Homo sapiens: one gene and its partner. The protein of the gene in region 2 interacts with the protein of the main gene of each other region in a pairwise test. Each region holds a gene or a part of one and is shown on either strand. Other genes may lie near its edges.

Region 1 (4,468 bases), on a different chromosome or scaffold from region 2:
GAGGAGACTGGGGAAAACCCTCAAAAGCACTTTGAGCACTCTCAGGAGAACTCTGTAAAATACTCAATAAAGTAGAGGAGAAGGAGGAGGTCATAGGAATCTGGAGAGGAGACTGGGGAAAACCCTCAAAAGTACTGTGAGTTCTCTCAGGGGAACTCTGGAAAAGACTCAGTAAAGTGGAGGAGAAGGAGGGGCTCCCAGGAATCTGGAGAGGAGACTGGGGAAAACCCTCAAAAGTACTTTGAGCACTCTCAGGAGAACTCTGGAAAATACTCAATAAAGTAGAGGAGAAGGAGGAGGTCATAGGAATCTGGAGAAGAGACTGGGGAAAACCCTCAAAAGTACTGTGAGTTCTCTCAGGGGAACTCTGGAAAAGACTCAATAAAGTGGAGGAGGAGGAGGAGCTCACAGGAATCTGGAGAGGAGACTGGGGAAAACCCTCAAAAGTACTCTGAGTTCTCTCAGGGGAACTCTGGAAAAGACTCACTAAAGTGGAGGAGAAGGAGGGGCTCACAGGAATCTGGAGAGAAGACTGGGCAAAACCCTCAAAAGTACTCTGAGTTCTCTCAGAGAAACTCTGGAAAAGACTCAGTAAAGTGGAGGAGGAGGAGGGGCTCACAGGAATCTGGAGAGGAGACTGGGCAAAACCCTCAAAAGTACTCTGAGTTCTCTCAGGGGAACTCTGGAAAATACTCAATAAAGTGGAGGAGAAGGAGCGGCTCACAGGAATCTGGAGTGGAGACTGGGGAAAACCCTCAAAAGGACTTTGAGTACTCTCAGGGGAACTCTGGAAAATACTCACTAAAGTGGAGGAGGAGGCGGCGCTCACAGGAATCTGGAGAACAGACTGGGGAAAACCCTCAAAAGGACTTTGAGTACTCTCAGGGGAACTCTGGAAAATACTCAATAAAGCAGAGGAGAAGAAGGAACTCGCAGGATTCTGCAGAGGAGACTGGACATCCTCACCCTCAGGAGGGCTCTGAGAAATCTCTAGAGGAGACAGGGAGTCCTTCCCCTCAGGAGAACTCTGAGAATTCTGGAGAGGAGACTGGGTGTCGTCGCCCTCAGGAGAACTCTGGGGAATCTGGAGAGGAGACTGGGAGTCCTTCCCCTCAGGAGGTCTCTGGAGAGGATCCGAGGAGTCCTCCCCCTCAGAACGACTCTGAGGACTCTGGAGAGGATACAGGGTGTCGTCGCTCTCAGGAGAACTCTGGGGAATCTGGAGAGGAGACTGGGAGTCCTCCCCCTCAGGACAACTCTGAGGACTCTCAGAGGAACTCTGGAGAAGACTCGGCATCCCAGCAGTAGGCATATCCTTGTCCCCTGGAGAACGCAGAAGCAGAGAGGAGGATGAGGATGAGAAAGAAAAACAGGAGGAGGACGAGGGGAATAAAAAGTGGAAAGAGGAAGAGAAAATGGAGGAAGCTTCCTCCTCTTCCTCATCTGGGGGATCCTCTGCATCTACCAACTCCAGTATGAAAATTGCCTTCTGGAAGCCTTGCTCAAAGCTGGGGCGTGGAAGGTTTAGAAAGAGAGGCATGATGAATATTGTTCAGGAGCAGCAGGTAAACGTGTGAACACGAATAGGTATGATGGGATCCCACAGGACTGAGGGAGAGAGGGACAGTGCCAGTGGCCTCAGCTGAGAAACTCACCCATGATGGCTCTGACAAAGGCCGGCTTACAGCTCTTCTTCTCTTAAGGTGGTGCTCTAGGGCCTCACAGGTCGCCTGTCTTCCTAGGGGGTTTGTCTTCTGGGAACCTGTAGAAGGACGCGAGAAAGCACCTCGGGGCACAGCTGGCAGGCAGAGCCTGAGGCACCAGGAATGACAGTGGGTGGCTACAGGCCGGGTGCTGCCAGGTCTGCCCTGTTTCTGGGGGTAGGGCCCTTGGTACACAGTCAGGTCGTGCACTCACCTTGACTCCTGGCACTGCCTGGGCCTCCTCTGCTGTGGTGCTTTTAGGATGTATGTGTCCCTCACACCCAGGTCTTCAACTCCTGCTTTCTGGAGCACCTGCAAGAGGAAGGGAGGGAGCCCCTCCAGCTAAGACGGCAGCTGGGGCTGGCCAGACTCCCAGAGTCCCACAATTCTGAGGTTCGTGACCCCCTCAGAATTCAATTAGCATTGTCACATTTTCTCAGACAGGGCCAGGCCCCCACCACTCTGCTGGCCTGAGGAAAAACCTCAGGAAAACTCCACATCACTGAGAGCAGTGGGAGGTAGTGAGGTGGCAGCCACCTCCCAGCACTCTACCACGGGGGCGGTCCCTGTGGCCTCACGTCTGTTCTGACGCACATGTGACCCCTCAGTCCTCACTCTTGTTCCCAGCAGGGCCTGGGAATCTTCCCTCTGCCAACTGGAGGCAGCTCCCCATGCTGACTTGCCATGGGACCCCCAGAACAAGGCCTCCTCCTCCCCCTCCCCTACACCCCTCACCCAGCAGTGAGAGGGTGGCCGCTCAGCCTCAGCCACCTGGGGAGCTCTATGGGGGCTGATTTGAGGAGCAGGGTGGGAATCTCTGGGAATCTGTCCTCTGAGGTGGGGGTTCCCCCGGTCCTCCTCAATGCCTTCCTATTTATTCTCTAGAGGGCCGGCATTTCCTCCCTTCTTCTGCCGTGAGGACACGTCCCTCAGCCCTCGGCTACCATCTTCGTTTCCGCCACCTACAAGTGCCACCGCAGGGATAGGGCAGGCCAGGGCTGCTTCTCTCTGTGGTGGGGTTGTCCCTCACTTCTCCCTCGGGGCCCTCACCTTGAAGACTGGATAGGTCTATAAGTCTCCTCCCTCCGCTGACCTGAGACGATCCTCGTCACAAAATGCCTCAGGTCCTTCAGACTCCCAAGATGGCCGCCGGGAAAGCACATCCGGCAAAGCACATCCGGGAACTCTGTCAGGGTTGATCAGGGCTGACAGCCCGGATAGCGTGGGGCGGGGCCTCCTCTCAGAGGAGGAAGGCGCCCCCCCCCCGCCGCCCGCTTGTCAGCCTCCTTTCCATCCCTTCCTTCCCACCTCCAGGATGTGCTCCAAACCTTTCTGCTCACTCCCTAAGCCCTGCTGACCTCTTCCCTCCCACCTCCCCAGTCCTTGACACTCACACCCCACCTTTTTCCAGGGCTGACAGCAGGGAGTGGCAGGGTGCAGCCTGTGCCTCCCCCGTGTTCGGAGGTCACTGTCCTTCGACAGAGTTCTCTTCTTGTTGAGTGGCCAGCCCTGGGGCTACTCCCTCTGTTTAACTGAAGCTGCCCTCCTCAGAGAAAATCTCCCCTCTGGCTGACTCCCAAAATGGAAGTCAGAAATTTGTAAATCTGGGGACCCTGATGGGCTCCTCCATGGCTGGCAGCAGGCACAGGGACAGGACAGGCAGCACTACCAGTCATGGGTGTTCCCTTCCTGCCTTCCTGAGAGGCTGTTCCTGGACTCCTGACATTGTCTGGGCTCCCTGCCTCTATGCATCTGAGTCTTTCACCTCCGAATAAGCCCCTCCCATCCTTGAGACCTGCAAGGTGCAAGAGAGGTAGAATCACATCCATCCACAGTGGGGTATGGCCTCCCAGACTCCAGGTAGGGCTCCACTGCCCTCCGTCTGAAATGGCATGGGAGGGACCCTCAGTCTTCCTCAACCTATTATTCCTGATACGGCCTCCACTCCCTCCCTCTTCTCTCCAGGGACTGTTTTTCAGATCAAGGTTCCCATTTCCATGAACCCCCCAAGAGGGACTGGAGCACGCTAGCGTCTCTCCCTAATGGCCCTGCCCAAGGCCTCCTAGCAGTGAAAACGGGCAGGTTTTTGGGGATCCTCCTGTGTCCGTGGTGGGGTAGCTCACCAGTCCATCCTCTGTATCAGCCTGGGGATGCCTAGAAGGCCCCCCTCCTGATCTTCCGCTCTCATGATCTGAAGTGAGACTCACCTAAGCACAGCCTTCTCCTCTTTCTACACGCTAAGACGTCAGGGGACAGCACTGTGGGTCAACATGCCCCTGGGCCTCCCAGGGATGACAACAGGTGGGGAGCTGGTTTCTGTGGATCCTCTTCTTTGTGGGCAGGAGGTTTCTGCAGTTTTCCCTCAGAGGCCTCATCTGACTACTGGCTGGTCCTGGGTCTTCCTATCCTTCCCAAGATGACAGTATGACACAGGGAAAAAAGTAATGTGACTTTACCCTGAAGAAAACTGACAAACACTAGGTCACCATGGTGATCAAAGTAACATCATCAGTGACAAATTGTGTTGGTATTATGTGCCGTCGGTATGATATGATAAGAATGGCACTTCACTTCTCTGTTCATCTTCCGAGAAAACGTAACCTACATCAAATCATAAAAAATAATCACTTAATTCCCAATCAAAGGCTATTTTACAAAATACCTGACCATACACCTCCAAACTGTCAATGTTTTCAAAATCAAGAGAAGTCTCAGTGAACTGGCACAGCCAAAGGGCATTTAAAGAGACATGATGAACAAGTGTA
Region 2 (3,809 bases):
GTTTCCCTGCACAAGCTCTCTCTCTCTCTTTGCCTGTCATCTATGTAAGATGTGACTTGCTCCTCCTTGCCTTTAAGTCCTTTAAACCTCTTTCTTTTGTAAATTGCCCAGTCTTGGGTATGTCTTTATCAGCAGCATAAAAACAGACTAATACAGTAAGGCAGAAACGTCTGAATCACTAGGCTTTGGGAGATGTTTAAAAGGAAATCATTAGTCTTATAGAAAAACTCTAGCTATCCGGAACTCTAGAAAAATAAGCTGTTCTGTTTGGCTATAACTTTAAATAAATAGAATACAGCCAACTTTAACAAAGTTTGACTGTATCTTTAAACAGAAATAAACAACTTTCAAAAAACAAGTAAAGAACATTTTGGAAGAGAAACAACTTGAGGATGAACGGGACTAGTAGTAGGTTCCCAACTTTCTCCCCTGCAGTTTTTGCTTTTTACCTTGGGTTCATCTAAATCCTATCTATGCTGCCTTTAGGAGAACTTTGCTCTTTTTCTTTTGCCTGGGCGTGGATAAAAATAAATGTCCATTTTCCCTAAGTACACTAAATACAAGGGTGCATTTTCTTTTTTTAAAAAGAATTATACAGGAAAAGAAAGGAAGCACAAAGTATAAAAACAGATAAATTAAATACAGATTTTTTTGGATCCTAAGATAAACAAGTTAAGTATAGACTTTTGATCCTAAGATAATTAAACTTTAGCCAGAAGTTGGCTGGCCCTATTTTTCTTTCCACCCAGTTATCAGTCTATTGTCCTTGTCTGCAGGAACTCACACAAGAAGCCAAAAATACAACACATACCTCAGAGTTTACCATCTCATTTTCTTGAAGATAAAAGACTTTTATTAAACCAACAATTCCAAGGAACAGAGGGTTTCTTCCTAAAGTATCAAAATTAATTTTTTAAAAACTTTAAGTGTTTTGGCAGAACTTTTTAAAATGTATTATGTAGGCTATAATTTAACTTTTCTTGATGACTCACTACTATTTTGTTTTTTGTTTTTGTTTTTGAGAGTTTCACTCTGTCGCCCAGGCTGGAGCACAGTGACACAATCTCAACTCACTACAGCCTCTGCCTCCTGGGTTCAAGCAATTCCTGTGCCTCAGCCTCCCAAGTAGCTGGGATTACATGTGCATGCCACCACGCTTGGCTAATTTTTGTATTTTTAGTAGAGCTGGGCTTTTACCATGTTGCCCAGGCTGGTCTTGAACTCCTGGCCTCAAGTGATCTGCCTGCCTCAGCCTCCCAAAGTGCTGGGATTACAGGCATAAGCCGCCACGCCTGGCCTCACTACTGTTAACATTAATAATATACCAGGCTAAAATAATGTTGTTTTCAGTGTCTATTAAGGACTTGCATACCAAATCAACAATCCCATAAGGATTGTGTGTTAAGAGAAATGGTTCACTTTTGCCATTTCTTTTTTCTTTTTTTGTTTTTTTTTTTTTGAGATGTAGTCTCACTCTGTCGCCAGGCGATCTCGGCTCACTGCAACCTCTGCCTCCTGGGTTCAAGTGATTCCCCTGCCTTAGCCTCCTGAGTAGCTGGGACTACAGGCACGCACCACCACACCCGGCTAATTTTTTTTTTGAATTTTAGTAGACATGGGGTTTCACCATGTTGGCCAGGATGGTCTTGATCTCCTGACCTCGTGATCCACCCACCTCGGCCTCCTAAAGAGCTGGGATCACAGGCGTGAGCCACCGCGCCTGGCCTCTTTTTCTTTCTTTTTTTGAGACAGAGTCTTGCTCTGTCTCCCAGGCTTGAGTGCAGTGGCATGATCTCAGCTCAGTGGCATGATCTTGGCTCACTGCAACCTCTGCCTCCCGGGGTCAAGCAATTCTCCTGCCTCAGCTACCCAAGTAGCTGGGATTACAGGCAGGCGCCAAGATGCCTGACTAATTTTTGTATTTTTAATAGAGACAGGGTTTCGCCATTTTGGCCGGGCTGGTCTCAAACTCCTGATCTCACGTGATCTGCCTGCCTCAGCCTCCCAAAGTGCTGAGATTACAGGCATGAGCCACCAAACCTGGCATTCTTTTGCCATTTCTATTTAACAGTCCTGGAATTCCTACCTGAGTAATTAGGTAAGAAAAAGAAATAAAAGGCATACAAATTGGGAAAAAAAAAAAACCAAAACTAAAATTATCTCTGTTCCAAGGTTACACGATCTTGTATGGAGAACACCCTAAAGATGCCACAAAAACATTAGAACTAATAATGATTAGTTGCAAATACCCTAAGCATTTTTTAGTGTCAGCAATGATGCAGGGTACAAAATCAACACATAAAAACCAGCTTTTTTATTTAATTAGCTGAGAATATAGGCAAAGTTGTTCTACTGTCCTGTAGTACATGTATAATTTTCCTATGGCAGTTACAACAAAAGATAGGAGAAACAAAGTTCCGTCTAAGTGTGACAGATGTAGATACATATCTTTCACAATGTTCCACAGGGACAGAGAAGTGATAAATCCTGCACCAAAGGAGTGAAAGGAGGAGACTGAATCTGCATGCCCAATGATCTCATGTTTAATAGCCTCTACATCTACTAATGGGCCCACTGCCAATGCAAGAGGGTCAGTTAAGTGGACATGAGTGTGCATATCATTAATAATATCAATGTCTTTAATGTCTGCAGTTAATGTTTTAATCACCCTAGGTCTGGAGATCTTCTTGGGGTATAATGAAGATCTTGTTGTCCTAAGATAGCTTCCCACAGATGTGTTTATTAGGATATACAATCTGCTGCCGACTTCAGGAGAAGTAGCATATAGTATTCGGATATATGGCTGGTAATACATAATTGTGATGTTCTTATACATGGCCAGGGGATACAGAGTTGTTGACCCATGGAACAAATTCTACCCAAATGGGTTTGCAACACCAAAACAAAACAGTTCTCCAGTTTACTAACCCAATTAAGTTCTTTTCATCCACAACAGCTCAACAAATGGGGTCATATCAGTAAGGGGTTGTACAGTAAAGATCTGCAAGAAAAGACTGAATGTTGCTTCTCAGTGATGGCTGCACTATCAATTAATGGGTTCAACATATCCACAATGTACTGCTGTGTCGTATCTCTCTTCCCTCAATGAGAAATCATGACAACTTGGCCAGATGCATCTGAACAGTCTACACCGAACCTGTCATCTAGAAACTTGTACTCACTCTCTAAGGGGAAGGACAGGAGAGGTGCAGATCGTCAAACTTTACATGGGTTGGATGCTCAAGTACTTGCCCATTAAAGATGCTTGACTGTGTAGTCACTATTCGTTTTGTGAGGATTAAATGCCAGATTCAAGTATACATACTCATAGTTTAATCTCAGCTATGCCAGGTGTGCTCAGTATCAGTGGGGAAGATGAGCAATAAAGACAATTTTAACCTTAGCGTCCTCTAGGCAAAAACATAACTGTCTTTTGTACAGCTGTCAAGTGAGTGGCCATGTGTCAGGGCCATTTCCACAATAACACCATGTAGTGCATGGATCTGTTACATATTGTTTTACTATAGTATATCCAGCTTAATCAGGTGCAGGGCGACAGTTGAAGGAGTACTCCTGGAAAATGCCTAAGATATGTAGATCTCTAGGATCTTGCACCTTCTGGTGGTTGCATGAAATTCTTCAGAGGAATCATCAGTGATAGTAAATTTACATGTTACATTCATAACAACTCTTATGGGAAATTTAGGATATTCAAATAGGACAACACCAGGAATTGACGTATCACAGAACTTGGTTTACAACAGTCCGAGCATGGATCCCATGCATCACCTTCAGCAGGAGGGGCAGAT

Evidence for each region.
Region 1: the proteins of RUSC2 (region 2) and MAGEC1 interact in a two-hybrid assay, tested with the Homo sapiens proteins (one study listed by BioGRID and IntAct).

Annotation. Positions count from the first base shown.
Region 1 is NC_000023.11:141,902,264-141,906,731, reverse strand, and holds the start of MAGEC1 (melanoma-associated antigen C1), read right to left. Parts: upstream 2,839-4,468; 5' UTR 2,754-2,838; intron 2,016-2,753; 5' UTR 1,918-2,015; intron 1,763-1,917; 5' UTR 1,660-1,762; coding exon 1,656-1,659; intron 1,324-1,655; coding exon 1-1,323.
Region 2 is NC_000009.12:35,496,494-35,500,302, reverse strand, and holds part of RUSC2 (AP-4 complex accessory subunit RUSC2), read right to left. Parts: intron 1-3,809. UniProt on the Homo sapiens protein: Associates with the adapter-like complex 4 (AP-4) and may therefore play a role in vesicular trafficking of proteins at the trans-Golgi network.